Linked DNA regions of Homo sapiens: region 2 is linked to region 1. Evidence: fine-mapped expression QTL. A gene starts in region 1. The other region holds a variant in brackets. All regions are shown on one strand. Distances are between the middles of the regions.

What was found.
Region 2: its variant is fine-mapped to the expression of OSBPL7 in esophagus muscle (GTEx, PIP 0.94).

What each region holds. Positions count from the first base shown.
Region 1 is chr17:47,817,914-47,825,913 of GRCh38, reverse strand. It overlaps OSBPL7 (oxysterol binding protein like 7), which reads left to right and starts at 4,120. Exons shown (of 23, transcript NM_145798.3): 1 at 4,120-4,248; 2 at 5,549-5,710; 3 at 5,818-5,943; 4 at 6,132-6,185; 5 at 6,815-6,928; 6 at 7,298-7,408; 7 at 7,528-7,645. The coding sequence starts at 5,636. MRPL10 (mitochondrial ribosomal protein L10) reads left to right here. Exons shown (of 5, transcript NM_145255.4): 5 at 1,456-2,642. The coding sequence ends at 1,709. RefSeq lists an enhancer at 3,662-3,831 and a silencer at 3,942-4,157.
Region 2 is chr17:47,851,998-47,860,461 of GRCh38, reverse strand. It overlaps a transcript of SP6 not described here. Among named protein-coding and RNA genes, the nearest start is that of SP6, 5.1 kb to the right of the region's middle. RefSeq lists a silencer at 6,479-6,670. The variant A/G (reference allele first, on the strand shown) is at 4,487.

The sequences.
Region 1 (8,000 bases):
GCCACCTCAGCCTCCCAAAGTGCTGGGGTTACAGGCATGAGCCACCGCTCCTGGTGAATCTGTGATTTTAATACCCCCTCAACACTCCATGATATTTATTCAATTTTTTAATTGTAAAATACACACAAAATTTACCATCTTAACCATTTTAAATGTACAGTTCCGTGTTAAGTACATTCATAATGCTATGCAACATCACCACCATCCATCTCCAGAACGTTTTGTCTTCTAACAGTGAAACTCTACACCCATTAAACAATAGTTCCCCGTTACTTCCCTCCATTCCATGATTCAGGGTCTCACTCCCATTGCCCAGGCTGGAGTGCAGTGGTCCGGTCATGGCTCACAGCAGCCTGGACCTCCTTGGCTTAATCCATCCTCCCACCTTAACTTCCTAAGTAGCTGGGACTACAGGCGCATGCCACCATGTCCAGCTAATTTTTGTATTTTTTGTATTTGTATTCACCATGTTGCCCAGGCTTGTCTTGAACTGCTAGTTTCAAGCAATTATGCCACCTTGGCCTCCTGAAGTGTTGGGATTACAGGCGTTTTCCACTGCACCCAGCCTGATTCTTTGTTTTTTTGAGACGGAGTTTCGCAGTTGTTGCCCAGGCTGGAGTGCAATGGCGTGATCTCAGCTCACTGCAACCTCCGCCTCCCAGGTTTAAGCGATTCTCTTGCCTCAGCCTCCCAAGTAGCTGGGATTACAGGTGCTTGCCACCATGCCTGGCTAATTTTTGTATTTTTAGTAGAAACGGGGTTTCACCATGTTGGCCAGGTTGATCTCAAACTCCTGACCTCAGGTGATCCACCGACCTTGGTCTCCCAAAGTGCTGGGATTACAGGCTTGAGCCACCGTACCCAACCTCATCCTGATTCTTTTTTTTTTTTTTTTTTTTGAGACGAAGTTTTGCTCTTGTCACCCAGGCTGGAGTGCAATGGCACGATCTCAGCTTACTGTAACCTCTACCTCCCGGGTTCAAACGATTCTCCTGCCTCAGCCTCCCGAGTGGCTTGGATTACAGGCGCTCGCCACCATGCCTGGCTAATTTTTGTATTTTTAGTAGAGACGGGGTTTCTCCATGTTGGCCAGGCTGGTCTTGAACTCCTGACCTCAGGTGATCTGCCTGCCTCAGCCTCCCAAAGTGCTGGGATTACAGGCATGAGCCACCACACCTGGCTGCCTGATTCTTATTTACAAGGAAGTTTAGGAAACACTGACTTAATAGGGGTCAGGGCCAGGTGGATATATTAAGAGTTTTCTGAGGGAAGAGTGAAGAAGTAGGGATCGATCCCAAGCAGAGTGGGTGTGGTGTGGGGCACAGTGGAACCCAGGTCCTGGGGAAGGCAGGATTTTGAGAAGGGCAATGGAGAGCAAGTTACTAGGGTCAGAATATTGTTTTCAGAGAAGAAAGGCAATCTGCAAGGAGCCTAACTGACCCTGTGTTCTTCCAGGTGGCTGCATTGATGACACCATCCTCAGCAGGCAGGGCTTTATCAACTACTCCAAGCTCCCCAGCCTGCCCCTGGTGCAGGGGGAGCTTGTAGGAGGCCTCACCTGCCTCACAGCCCAGACCCACTCCCTGCTCCAGCACCAGCCCCTCCAGCTGACCACCCTGTTGGACCAGTACATCAGAGAGCAACGCGAGAAGGATTCTGTCATGTCGGCCAATGGGAAGCCAGATCCTGACACTGTTCCGGACTCGTAGCCAGCCTGTTTAGCCAGCCCTGCGCATAAATACACTCTGCGTTATTGGCTGTGCTCTCCTCAATGGGACATGTGGAAGAACTTGGGGTCGGGGAGTGTGTTTGTCACTTGGTTTTCACTAGTAATGATATTGTCAGGTATAGGGCCACTTGGAGATGCAGAGGATTCCATTTCAGATGTCAGTCACCGGCTTCGTCCTTAGTTTTCCCAACTTGGGACGTGATAGGAGCAAAGTCTCTCCATTCTCCAGGTCCAAGGCAGAGATCCTGAAAAGATAGGGCTATTGTCCCCTGCCTCCTTGGTCACTGCCTCTTGCTGCACGGGCTCCTGAGCCCACCCCCTTGGGGCACAACCTGCCACTGCCACAGTAGCTCAACCAAGCAGTTGTGCTGAGAATGGCACCTGGTGAGAGCCTGCTGTGTGCCAGGCTTTGTGCTGAGTGCTGTACATGTATTAGTTCCTTTACTGCTGACCACATTGTACCCATTTCACAGAGAAGGAGCAGAGAAATTAAGTGGCTTGCTCAAGGTCATGCAGTTAGTAAGTGGCAGAACAGGGACTTGAACCAAGCCCTCTGCTCTGAAGACCGCGTCCTGAATTTCTTCACTAGAGCTTCCTCATCAGGTTACCCAGAAGTGGGTCCCATCCACCATCCAGGTGTGCTTGGATGTTAGTTCTCCACCCTCGAGGTGTACGCTGTGAAAAGTTTGGGAGCACTGCTTTATAATAAAATGAAATATATTCTACTTCCTTTATTTTGTGGTTTACACGGTTGTCCTCCCTCTAAACTTACTCTCAGGGGCTTCTCTGTCATCTGACTTTCCTCACTCTTGCTTCCCTTCCTAGGAAAATCCTCTTCCCCTATACCTGTTCCCACAAATGGCATCCCGCGCATGCTTGCCCTATTAAAGGCAGCTGACAGCTGTACCCACTAGCTAACGTGTCTCTGGTGGTTCTGGACAAAAGGCCTGCGGGAAAACTAGGATTCTCTATTAATGGGGAATTCTGAGAGCTCTAGGGTAGGAGGCCTCATGCAAGTCTTCATGAACCAGAAATTCCTAATAAAGGAGACGGGATGCTTAACTCAGAGTCCACCATCATCCTTGACTGGAGCACATTCTGGGTGGATGCAGGGGTGACCCGGGGAAGGTGGCTGTTCAACATTCCTTCTCGGACTTGAAGCAATGCCACCGCTTCCTTAGTCTTGGACAGGCACTGTCTGGCAGGGATGACCTGCAGCAGCTCTTTTGTGGCCTGGGCCAGGACCAGCTTCCCCCAGTGCCTCATCCTGTGCTGTATGCCCAGGGATGTTCAATCACTGGGAAGTGGCTTAAAAGGCCCTTGAGGCTCCTGGATGCCAGAGCTTGTCTGGTCAGTGCTGCCCAGTGCTCCTGTCCCTCCCAGAACCCTGCCAGGTGCTAACAACACCCTCCTCCTGGGGTGGCTGGAGCAGCACTGAGGCTCTGAATAAAGGCAAGACAGTGGGTGTTCCCGAGAGATATGTGAGACCCTGAAACGTAAACCAAGCTCGGTGAGGATGAAGTGGAAGGGATAAGTGGCCCATGTCACTTTTGGGGTCAGAGAAGAAACTTGAATCACATCCTTCACCTGAGGCCCCACCTACTTCTTTCCAGAAAACTTAGCTGCGCTTGAAACTGTAGGTCTATGCCACATTCATTTGAATGAATTTTAGATCTTTGTTAAGAGCCGATTTTTCATTAGAATTGAGCAGCTGGGCACAGTACTCCAGCAGAAGGGTAAAGGGAAGGGAGGGGACCAGCATTGCAGCCCTTTTAACGGCAGCTGTGACTGCCCCAGGCCTGCTCCTGATCAGAGACTGCAGGCTGTGGGGTGTCTTCATACACACAAGCACTTTCAGATCTCCATGGGGCCTGACCTAGTGGGGCATCACCCCAGTGAAGGGCCTCAGTGTGGGGACTGCTGGCTGTCCCTTTCCTGGCTTGACTGCCCCTGCTGACTGTGCTCTTGGCACTCTCTTATGGTCCCAGAGGGGGCATCTGTCCCTCCACCATCAACCTGATACTTTTGCTGGCTCCAAATTTTGCAGTCTATTTTCAGATGTAAAATGAGAGGCGGGGGGCGGGGGTTAATTAGGAATTGGCCTTGGGTACTAACAGGGTCACTGCCATGCTAGTCTGAATAAATCCTTTATCACCACTGGCGTACAGCCAACAGTTCCCCAGTCCTCTGATCTATCTGGAACCATGCCCAGCAGGGACTGTGCCCCCACTCCCAAGCCACATCGATGCTAGGGCAGTCTGCTCAGCCCTGAGTCCTCCGGGGAGCAGGGGGGCAGAGCTGAGCGGCTGCCCGGAGCTTGGCGGGAGGAGGGGACAGGGGAGAGGGAGGTGGGGAGATCCGGCTAGAGGGGAGGCTCTGACATCTCCTTCCTTCCTGGTTCCTGCAGCAGCTGCTGCCACTGCTCAGCGCGGTGAGGAGGGAGCCGGTGACTCGGAGACGGTGACTCAGAGGCAGAGCGGCGCAAGGGCCAAGGAGTACTGGCGTCCATGGACCCTGGGGTAAGGGGGCTGCGTGGCAGCAGCTGACATTCCTGAGAAGAGCTTCCTCCCACCTGAAGCTGGTGGGTCTGCTCCTGAATAGAGGTGGAGAGGGGGCACCCACCTGGCTCACCTAGACCCTTCACCTGCCTACCGATAGAGCCTCCCCCTCTACCCACAAGCAGTGAGGGGCCAGGATCCCCACAGGGCCGGGAGAAGGGCCCAGAGATACCTGAACACCGGAAGAGTTTGAGAACTTTCAATGGCTGAATGCAGGAGTTTCCTCCCAGGTCAGCCTCTTGCAGCAAGGGTCCCTCTGCCCCAACCTCCTGGGCACCCGTTCCTGCCACATCCCTGTCCCCTCTGGGCCTCAGTTCCTCAGGTGCTTGCTAGCTCCATTAGAAGATCTGGGCTGCTTCCCCCACCTCAAACCAGCCTCGCCCCTCCAGTCCCCTCCCCCGTCTCACACATGCAGAGCCTCATGCATTATTGATCTCCCGGTGGAGCCAGGATGGCCAGGGCCAGTGCCAAGGGTGCCTGTGGGCACTGCTGCAGGACCTGTGCAGACCTGGGCATGTCCTGGGCCCCCTCTTCTCTCATGAAGTATCTCCTTTAGCCCAATGTCCTGCCCTCTCTGGGTGGGTGGCACTTCTCAGAGCCCCAAGGACTGTGAGGGTAGACAGGGGATGGTGAGGCTTTAGGGGGTACTGAGGGTCCAAAAAGGGCATCCTAGGGGCATGTTTGGTGGGAGGAGACATGGGAAAATGGGGGCTATCTCAGGCCTCAGTTTCTCCAAGCACTAGATAATATGGAGATTAATTGGTGGGAGGCTGGGGAGTTTTCTGCAAGATCATGGCAGAGAAGTCTCTGAGCTACGGTGGCAGGGTGGAGGGGTCCTGAAGGCAGAGGCAGCTGGATTGAGGAGGTCTCGCTTGTCCAGTCTCTGAACCCCTCTGTCTCTTCTTGGAGCCTCTTCTGTCACTCCCTTGCTTCACCTCTGAGCACTCCCAGGGAAGCCTCTAAAGAAAGCACTGAATGTTTCTTGGAGCCCCAGAGTATGTGCCCAAGGCGGGGCTGGGCATATGTCTTGTGGTTTTCCCTGGGCACCTGCCCGTCTGCTGTGTGCTAGTTCACTCTCAGGGCAGTGTCCATATCAGGTGAAAATGGGTGGGGTCGGGACAGAGGGGCAGACTTGGGAGAGGCTTGGCAGGTGAGCAGAGGGTATGTTGGGGAGCCCTTATCTCAGAGGGTGTGGGAGGGGCTGGAGGTGGGGAAGGTGATAGCAGAGTTTGCGTTAAGGGGGTCTTTCTCTTGCTTCAAGGACCCCGTCAGGAGCAGGTGACATCCTTCCCCTTCCACCCTGCTCCCTGCTCTACATCCCCAGCAGGGAGTGGCCTCTCCCTTCTCCATGGACTTCCAAGAGAGGGACCCGCCCTTCCTGCCTGAGAGCGCTCAGTCCTCAAAGCCCAGCAGTGCTCAGCAGGTCAGAGAGTGGGAAAGCGGTGGTGGGTGGGCCAAGCTGGAACCAGACAGGGAGGGGCCAAGGCGGACGTCTCACCAGTGCTCCCCTCCCTCTGTCCTGGACTGCAGGCCTCTGAGCTGTGGGAGGTGGTGGAGGAGCCTCGGGTCAGGCTGGGGACAGAGGGTGTCATGCCTGAGAGGCAGGAAGGTCACCTGCTCAAGAAGAGGAAGTGGCCTCTGAAGGGCTGGCACAAGGTAGGGTGGGCAGGCAAAGGGAGGGTCCAGACATGGGGGGCGGGGTGGGAATGGGGGGCAGCTGCTGGGCAGTCCAATGGTGTTTGCATGATGAGAAGGAAAAGAAAAGCTAATTTGTGTGGTTGCCTTCTCCCTCATGCCCTTCCTCTCGGCCTCCCGGGTCCTGTCACTCCTGGGCAACATCACAGAGATACTTTGTGCTCGAGGACGGGATCCTTCATTATGCAACAACCCGGCAAGACGTGAGCCCGGGCAGTGGCTTGGGGTTGTGGGAGGAGTCTGGCCCCAGTATGCCCTGGGCAGGCATGGGGTATCTGGAATCGACCAGAGCAGGGTCTGAATCCCAGGTCCACCACTTGCTGAATGTGTGATCTCGGGCAAGTTACATCCCTGGGCCATAGCTTCCTCACCTCTAATGGGAGAGCACCATCCCCCAGGTGCAGAGCTGTCATGGTAAGGGAGGTCATACGTACAAGGCTCTCTGGACAGGGCAGAATAAGTGCCCAAGAAATGGGGGCTTTACCACCCTCATCCTGGTCCCATTCTCAGGCTGGGAACAAGGAACTGAAGGCCTGGGTACCCAGGATCTCTCTGGGAGGGTGTTGCCTTCCACAACCCTGCAGACCCCTGAGGGTGGGAATAGTTTTTCTTGATCTGTGACTTCTTAGAGACCAAGATGTGACTTGACGTAGGGGAGCGTTCTGCACATGGGAGGATGATTGACAAGTCTCTACTGATAGTGTGACTTGGACATGAGGGTGAACCTGCCACCTGGCCCTTGAGCCTAGAATGGCATCAGGGAGATGGTGGCTCTATGGCTCTGAGAGCCTAAAACAGGTCCCCTCTCCCTCTACCAACACTTCACCCCCAGATCACCAAGGGGAAGCTCCATGGCTCCATCGATGTCCGGCTGTCGGTCATGTCCATCAACAAAAAGGCCCAGCGCATTGACCTTGACACTGAAGACAACATCTACCACCTCAAGGTGACATCCCTGGGAGGCAGGACGTGTGTTGGCCCCCAACCTGACAGAGGCATTGGAACACACAGGGGCAGGGGCTGAGGGTCTGTGGAACTCAGGGTCTGTCTCTGAGTTTGACAAAAAGTAAGTTTCCATCCTGTAAAAACAGCCAAGGGCAAACCTGCACTTCTTGGTTGTTGTATGGACAGGCACAGAGCTAAGGGCTCAGACACCTGGGCGCCTTGCGCTCTGTCTCCCTGCAAGTGAGCCTTGCACAAACCAGGCTCTGTAAGAAGAGACCCTGCTTGTCTGGGGACCAGAGCCCTGACTTCTTGCTCTTGGAAAGTGGTCCCTCTCTTCAGATAGCCCTCCCCCTCTCCATCACTTCTGCAGATCAAATCCCAGGACCTATTCCAGAGCTGGGTGGCGCAGCTGCGTGCCCACCGCCTAGCCCACCGCCTGGACATGCCCCGTGGCTCACTGCCCAGTACTGCTCACCGGAAGGTAAGGTGGACCCTGGGGTGGGGGCAGGTAATGTGGCAATTCAGGGGCAAGGGCTATGGAGAACTGTGAGACCCAGGGAGGTGGGCATCATCCTTCCTGACCCTGGGCTCACCCCACAGGTTCCTGGTGCCCAGCTTCCAACAGCAGCTACTGCCTCAGCCCTACCTGGGCTTGGACCGCGGGAGAAAGTGTCTTCCTGGCTGAGGGACAGTGATGGGCTGGACCGCTGCTCTCATGGTGAGGGGCCCTAGGCGCAGCACCTCCAAGGGTAGGCCCCAAGCTGGCAGGTCTAGGAGGGGAAAATGTTACCTCCATCCCTGCCTCAGGGAGCCCCAGTTTAATGAGACAGCCTCTGCCTCCAAGGAGATCCAGTCTACCTGGGCCCTGTCTAGGGGAGTCCCAGTCTTACAGAGGAGTAAGAGTCTGCCTGGGCACATAGACAGACGTGGATGCAGGGACAGGAGTTGTGACAAAGCAGATACTGAGTGCCCACACAGGGCAGGGGCCTGAGGAGTAGCGCCAGGGAAGGGGTGTGCTCTAGGAAAGGGTTCCTGCAGTAGGGTCTGTGAAGTTGGCCTGGAGGGAGAAGTGT
Region 2 (8,464 bases), 34 kb before region 1:
TATAAGATGCTGGGGGAGATTCAAAGATGAACAGAAATTTCCAGTCCCTCAAGGAACTCACGATCTTACACATGCACACAGCTAATTGTATTACCCATCAGAGAATATTAAACGCTCTATATTTTAGAACTATGGGAGCACAGAAAAGTACAACTTGAAAAACTGGAGAAGGCTTTAGAGAGCATGGGGACATAGGAGTTGGGATTTAAAAGATCCATAGGAGCTCATCAGGCAGAGAAATGGGGAAGAGCATTTCACACATGGAACAGTGTGGGGCGTGAAAATATGTGGACGGTAAGGATGGAGTAGAAGCCTCCTGGGGAGTGGGAAGGGATGTGGCTGGAAAGGGAGGCTGAGGCCAGATGGGGAATGGGGCTTCAATCCTAGGCCTAAGAGTGTAGATTTTCTCCTGTAGGTAATGGGGGGCTATTGAATGTTTTTGAGCTGAGGCACGACATGACTGGGATCTTTCCACCCTTGTAAGAAGTTTAAATTCCTACCGAGGGACTGAGGGGATTCTGCTTTTTCTGCCTCTGCCTGTCTCCGTGACTGACACCCAGCCAGCCTTTTCTCTCGGCTCCACTTACCGCCCTTGCTCCTTTGCCCCAAACCTCCAATTCCTTGTTCCAAGCAGGGTGACAGGGTGGGGAGCTTCACTCTCCCTCAGCCCTCACTCCAACCCTGCATGTCCCAGATACTCTGTGGGTCCTTCCACTTCCATCACACAACCAGGGCCAGCCAGGGGGACAGTAGGAAGCTGTGTGTGCTTACTTCATGGATCTTTGGGTTTTAAGTTCCCCGACCCAGGCTTCTGCCTTCACTGATGCCCTCCCCAAGCTGAGGAGCTTCTGGAAGCTTGGATTCTGGGGAGCCCTTTCTCTAATTCACTCAGCTGTGGCTTATCCATCCCTTTCTCAAAGAAAGGCTCTGGCCTGAGGACCCTGTGGCATGAAAGGATAGAGTTCTTGCCCTCAAGGATTCAACCAGTAGAGAAGATAAGAAAACAAGCCCATGGAAGCAGAGCATGAGGCAATAAGTGCTGAGGAAGTTCAGAGGAGCATGCCAGTGATGTGCGGATAAGAGAAGCCTTTGCAGAGAAAGCCGCCTATGTGCCAGCCAGGAGCTTGAAGGATAATGTGCTTTCCAGAGGCAAGAATGGCTGGCAGGGGTGGAAATGATTTCGACAAAGGTAGGAAGGCTGGACATGTTTGGTGAACATTAAATCCATTGGGCTGAGCTGGGCTGTAGGGTTTGTATGAGGACCAGCGGGAGAGAAGACTGCGTAGGTGAAGTGGGAGGGTCCTGGATGACACATTTAGCACTGTGGAGCCACTGGATGTGTTGGAGATGGGAAGTGCCAAGATGGAGTGGCACTTTAGGATGATTAGGCCAGGCATCATATCTCACGCCTGTAATCCCAGCCCTTTGGGAGGCTGAGGCAGGTGGATCACCTGAGGCCAGGAGTTCTAGAGGAGACTGGTCAACGTGGTGAAACTCCGTCTCTACCAAAAATACAAAAATTAGCCAGGCATGATGGTGGGTGCCTGTAATCCCGGTTACTTGGGAGGTTGAGGCATGAGAATCACTTGAACCCAGGAGGCTGAGGTTGCAGTGAGCCAAGATGGCGCCACTGCACTCCAGTCTGGGTGATAGAGGGAGACTGTCTCAAAAAAAAAAAAAAAAAAAAAAAAAAAGATGCTTCATCTGTCATTAATTAGGTGCAGGAAAGCTTAGGTTGGTGGGTACAGAAGTGGCATAGGAGACCTGAAAATTAATCGAGACAAGTAGTAATTTTTGTCAGCAAGTTGACACTTCCACAGAATTTCCACAGACCAGTGCCCATTTCCACCTCATTTGTCAATTAAACAAATATTTGTAAGATACTTGCTAAGTACCAGACACCATTTTAGGCTCTTTCTTCATCATCTTCCCCTGCCCTAAGATAAAAAGATGAAGGTAAACTCTCACCTGCACACACTTGGGAGATCTTACTTAGCCCAGCCTCCCCCTTGCAGCCTAAGCGAATCCAGTAGTGTCTGCCTTTGGAGCAGGTATATTGAGAAAAATCAGAGAACTACATGCAGTAAGGATTTGGGGGACAGTGAGGTAAGCAAGCTTAGGGGTGGGAGGAAGAGTAGCTTGGAAAGCAGAAAGCAGTTGGTGGGTGGGAAAAGGGAAGTTGACAGCTGAGTGTAGGGGAGCCCTGGGATCTTTAGGGGAGGGAGGCTGGGCAAGGAGGAGAAAGATGGAAGGAAGAACAGTAGGAGATGGGCCTCTGGGGCTGAGGATGGGGGCCGGAGGGAGGAACAAATTAGAGAGCTGAAGAAGGAAGTAGAGTCTTAGCAGCTAGGGGCGGGAGGAGGAGGTGGGAGACCGAGAGGCGAGGGCAGAGGAAATAGGCCCAGGCACTGGAGACGAAAGTCTGGGAGTCTGAGCCGCTGAGGAGCCACCTGGAAGGTGCAGGCAGCGGCAACATCAAACCTGAGATCCGAGGGCTGGCGCTGGGAGTGAGCTGCTGGAGTTGGGGGAGGTGGCTCGTGTGGGGGCCAGGGGGCGGGTAGGGGAGCTGAGATCAAGAGAGAGGGGCTTGAATTGAATCTACCCTCAGCCCCACTGGGTCTTCAGCTTCCTCAGCCCCCTCCCCTCTTCTGGCTCCAAAGGCCAGAAGCCAGGACTCTGCAGTCCCGCCCCCCACTCCAAGCTACAGGCCGCATGGCACCCACCCATAGCTTTCCCAGCTCCTCTCTCCCGCCCATCACTGGTGTTAGGAAAACACATTGTCTGGAGGTGCGAATAGAGGAGGAAAGGGGGTCTCCTGCCAGGTAGGGTGCTGGCTGTGTTCATTGCTGTCCAGGCAGGGTCTAAACACACCCCTGACTGATCCAGAGGCCAGGGGAAGGTGTGTGGGCCTGAAGGTCCAGGTTGAGGGCTGGGTCTTTTTCCTCTCCCAAACTCCCCCCCAACCCCAAGATTCTCCCATCTTTTGGACTGGACCTGCTACCTAAGCATATGGAACCGATTGAAAGAATTTGTATGCTCACCTTATAATTTATGCAAATCAACTCTGTAATTAACTATAATTTGGAGGCATCCTTTGGTATTTGAGACATTTATCCATGAGGAAATGCCCTAGTGATAATGCTCCCGTATTAACATTATTTACTCCACCTGTGTGGTCTCCTCAGCTTGTTTCCCCTCCCCACTCTGATTTTCTGTGCTGGAAGGTGGGGAGGGACAGGGAAGCCCCTCCCTGGAGCCTGCCTCAGTCCTGATGCCTGGGTTCCCCCAGGGGGTTGTGCTGGCCCTGTCCTCCCAATTTTGCCTAAGATTGAAGAAAGAGGTCCAGCTCTGCCTCCTAAGCCCTCTAATACTCTATTCTCTCCTGCTTGATGGGTGGCTTTCTGCTGAGCTTTTACCTCTTCAGGGCCTCAGTGTTCTCATCTCTGAAATGGGGAGAGGAAGGACCTGTCAGGGCCTTTATGGGATAATTGCTGAAAAGTTAATGAAGAGACTGGGAATCCCCAGTCTAGAGGTTGCTGAGGGTATAGGGGAGGAGCAGGAGAAGAGTTTTGGGTAAAGACTCCCTGGCTCATCCTGGGAGGGAGGTAGCATGTAAGTCTTGGGGTACTGGGTTCTGGTGTGTGTAGAGGGGGTACAACTGCTCCTGTCCTCTGCCAAGGGCATTGGGCTGTGGTCAAAAACAGGATGTCATCCCGTGAAAAGTCCCCAGGCCACTCTCCTATGTGGGTCAGAGTTCACAGCTTCAGTGAGCTTTGGGAAACAAGTCTTACTCTTCTGTTTCATCTCCGTTCTCCTTCCTGGTCTTTTGTCCATCTCTGCCCTGGGACATGTTTGTGTTAGCCAGTATACCTAAACTTACAACCACCCTAAAATTAGGCTCATATAAATAGAGATCTGGGGGCTCCCCCTAAATTCACCTTCAGGCCCCTTCTCCCTTTTCCAGGCCACCTTCCTACCCTCTTCACCCTCCTGGAGTTCCAGGAGTCCTGAACTGTCTGTAGCAGTTCTTGGCTGGACTCTGCCTCTGGTCTTTCTGGTCTTAGGTGACCTCTTGTCCATCCTAAGCTTCCCCACTCCATCCAAAGTCAGGGAAAAGGTCCTCCCTTCCCATTTGACAATGAGAGATCCCAGGTCCAAAAGATAGATTACACTGGGTCCTCTTGGGGGATCCAAGTTGGGAAGTGAGTATGTAAAAAGAGGATGAAAAGGGAGCGAGAGAAATTGTGGCTCAGAGAGGCCAACAACACTGACATGAAGCTCTGCAAGGAGGAACTGACTTGAAGACGTGTGGTGTGTGTGTGTTTGTTGGGGGCATGAGCCCTTCAGGTCTCAAAAATGGAACTTCTTTCTCTCTTACCAAGTCCATGGAGGAAAACTCAGGAAGAGGGGATGGAATTTGGAGAGTTCCAGCTATCCCAGCTCTCCACCCTAGCAATGCTGTCATTTCCTCCATCCTGCAAGAACC[A/G]CTTTGTCCCTCTCCCACTGCCCAGCCAACTCTGCGGAAGGAAGGAAGTGCCCCCAGCCCCCACTCCCAGCTGAAATCCTCCTTTCCTGGCAGACCTCACGGACTCAGATCTCACCTCCTACCACTCCCCTAGGAGAGCTGGGGGCCACTGTTTCCTGGATTATCCTAAAAGCTTCTGAGGCCGTGAGGACTTGGCAGCATCCCTGCTCCCTCCTTCACCTCCCCCTTTGGCACTGCCTGTCACCTCCTTTATAAAGCCTGGCTCTTTTATCACCGCCACTTGGCCCTCACTGCCGCCGCCAGCTCTGGGCTCCATGGACTGGTAAGAGAGGCTGTTCCCTGTCCAGTACAGGGGACCTCCACAAAGAGGATCAGGTCTCCACTCTAAAGTGGGGGTCATAGAGAAGGGTCTGGTTCTCTCTGAATTGGGAAGGGGGAGATAAGAGGGAGATCTTGGTGGGGTTTGCATGGAGAACTAAAGGGATCCCTTGGAGGTCTTTTGACTGGGCTGGGGTAGTCAGCCCAGTGGAGAAGTGGGGTAGGGATTCATAGCTGGGAACTTTATTTCGAGAGAAAGGAAGGGCAAATAAATGTTAATAGAAATACAGGGCACACACACTCACTGCCCTGAATGACAGAACACCTGCAAGGATAGTAAGGGAGAAACCACTATCCACATCCTATGGGGAACTGCATTTACGGTGGAGGAGAGAAGACACCCTACACTCAAGCCCACAGGTACACACAGGCATAATATGTACACACATTTGTAGATATACACACACCGACATACAGATGCACTATCCTCAGGTGGGTTCATCTTCTAGACTGAAAAGCGATGGTGGTAGCTAGGGATTTTGAAATTTATAATAAAATTAGTGTCCAGCATTGTGCTTGGCCTTAAGTAGACCCTCGATAAGTGTTTGTTGAATGAAATAAAGGATGAATGAAAGAAAACTATTTGACCCCAGCTTTAGGCTCTATCTGGTTTTCTAAGAATCAGGAGAGTATGGTGGGGAGAGGAGGGGAAATAAGGAATATGTTGGCATCCAGGGTCATCAGCTTGCAGGCTTGGAAGTGCAGCCCGAAGGTGGGAGTGGGAAATGGAGGAGAGGAGTGAGTGAGAAGAGGAAAACAGGACCAGACTCTGGTCTGGTCCCAGCTCTGCTTCTAACTTGCTACTAACGTCCCTGTTTTGGGGTTTGGTTTCCCTACCAGTAAAACGAGGGCTTGGACGAGACAATTTGGGGCTAGACCAGCTTTGATATTCTCATAGTGCAATCTCTACAGGACAGTTGAAGTTTGGAAGGGATCACAAGTGTAGAGTCTGACTTGTCTCAGCAATTCAAGATGGGATCAGTTTGTCCATTAGACTCAAGATAGGAGATGGCTTTGATCTAGGGATTCATTTAAGAATGCTGTTTCCTCCACCTTCAGGCTCTAGGGGAGCCAGACTTCCAGGGTCATCAATTCTGCCATATTGAGGCCAGATGGACTAGTAGGCAGAATACAGGCTTTGGAACCTGAGAGATCTGAACTCAGTTTCTTCTTCTGTCTTTTAACAACTCTGTAATCTTGGGTAGATCATTTAACTTCTTTGATCTTTGGCTTCCTCATCTGTACAACGGGAATAATAATAATTACTTTGCTGCATGCCCATGAGAATTAGAGATATTTGTGTAAAGCATCTGGAACATAGTAGGTGCTCAGTAAATAAATGCCGTTTGTGATAAACACGCAGACTAATGAGATTTCTCCAGGTACAAAGTGGATCACTGACTATAGATGAAGCTTGAGAAGAAGAGGGGTGGCAGGAATGGGGGTTGGACACTTGCAGGGGAAATCTGACTATTTATTTGAGAGAATGAGGAAGAGCAGCAGAAATGGCCCAAGTCCAAGACAGATCTCAGTTTATACAGGAGATGTGATGGGCTGTGTTGTTCAATTTTGAGTAGCAATAAGTATATGGGCAATGGGCTGTGGTGACCTTGCTCATTAAGTTAACATCAGACCATGCGCCGTCATTCGGTGGGAAAACATTTAGCAAGTGGGAAACCAAAAGGGCTGGAAGCAGAGGACTGCAAGTAGAGGGGGACTGGAGGAAAGATAGTGCCAGTACCCTGAGTGAGCAGCAGAAACCTAGGCAGAGCAGGAAATCAGAATGGCTGGGAGTTTCCAGAGACAACTGCATTGTTGTTGAATTTCCTGCTGATGAGCTGCAGGCAGATGGAGGGTCTTTGCTGGTGGAATTCCAGATGGCTACAGGTCTGGTTGGATCGGGGCAGGGCTAAAGGGGGCCTAGAGTGAAAGTAGCAGGGAGTGTCTACCATCCTCGGGCTGAATCCCTGTTGCTTTCCAGGGAAAAGGCAGAAGGGGCCAGGAAGAGAAGGCAATCTGATGCCTATAAATGGGAGGGGAACTTGGTCCCCTACCCAGAGTCAGACCCCTGCACAGGCTTTAGCACCTTAGGAACAGTAGATGCAGCACCAGCAGGCAGCTTGGAGGAGGAGGCAGGAATGCCCAGAGGTCAAATCAGGAACCAGAGTCCCCCACTGGGGGCTCTGTTTTGGACCTGATGAGTGTCTACTCCATTCCAGAGGTAGCTGTGAACTAGGATACAAACCCAACTGGCCAGGATTTGTAGGCTGAATGGATGGAGACAAAGCTGCGTTGATGAAGAGGATTGATTGTCAAATTAGCCATGGCCACAAAGATCCAGAGCAGTTCCTGTGAATCCACATCCAGAGCCCCAAGTAACAAGAAGGCAAAAAGCAAACCCCGACTGATCAGAAATCTCAATCCCCCGATGTCAGGCGGCATCTCCGGCTTCCAAATACCTGTCACTTCTCTAGCTTGGTGGCTGCTTTTACAGCATTTCACCAAGGAAGAAACTGAGGCTTAGAGGCACCTGACCTGCCAGGGTCAGTTTAGCAAGTGCAGGGCTGGGGCTAGAATTTAAATCCGTCAACTTCTAGTCCACAGGTCTTTGTGCATACACCTTAATCCAACCAATATTTACCTGGAACTGACTTATTTAATAATTATAACAAGGATATCTTCCATTTACCCGGCGCTTACCAGGGGCCCCTTGGGCTAAGCATTTTTAGGCATATCAATTCCTTTAAGCCCCCAGGAGACCCTACCAATGTGTACCCAGGTTGTCCGGATGAGGGAAATGAGCCTTAGAAAAGAGGGAGATGCACAGATGAATCCGACGTCGATTCTGGATAAGAACGTGTGCGTGTCTGAGGGGTACCATGCACATACGCATACACACATGGATTGATTTTCACCCCGCTTATGCACTCGGTTTAGCTATTTTTGAGTTACAGTTTGAGTGTGTCCCAAACGGGCATGCAGGACAGGTAAACCAATGGCGGGGGGGAGTAGGGGCTGTAGAGGCGAGATTAAATCAGCCTAAATTCAAGTATGAAATCGACTGTAAAGAGGAAAACGAAATTTTAAAAAGCCGACGGCAAAGCGCACAGAGGAGACGAATCTGAAAAATGAAAGAAATAGGGAAATTAATCTGCATTCCCCTGTGAAAAAAGGGGTCACATGGAGAGATCAACACTGCGGCATGGGAGTGAAGCATGGGGCCACCTCAGCGGCCAGGCAGAAGAATGCGTGGGTGGAGGACGGAACTTCCCTACCCACCGGTGCTTTGCGGGTCTCGGAAATGTCGACCCATCCAGATCTTGAGGGAAGTTTTTGTGAGCTCCGCGAGCGCGCTGAAATTTTACCAGAATATTGCACTGGGCATGTGAATTTTTCTCAAAGGAATCCAAGACCCCTCCCCAAAGTTAAGAACCTTGGGTTTAGTTATTCTGGTGAGAATTAGAAAGGAATGGTGGCAAGGGATAGCTCAATTCCTTCCAGAAGTGTCCCTTCCCAGGGCCATTCAGGCGCCTGCCCATTCTTCAGAACCGGGTGCTCGGGGGCGAGGGTGTGCGTAGGCTGAGCATTTCCCGAAGGACA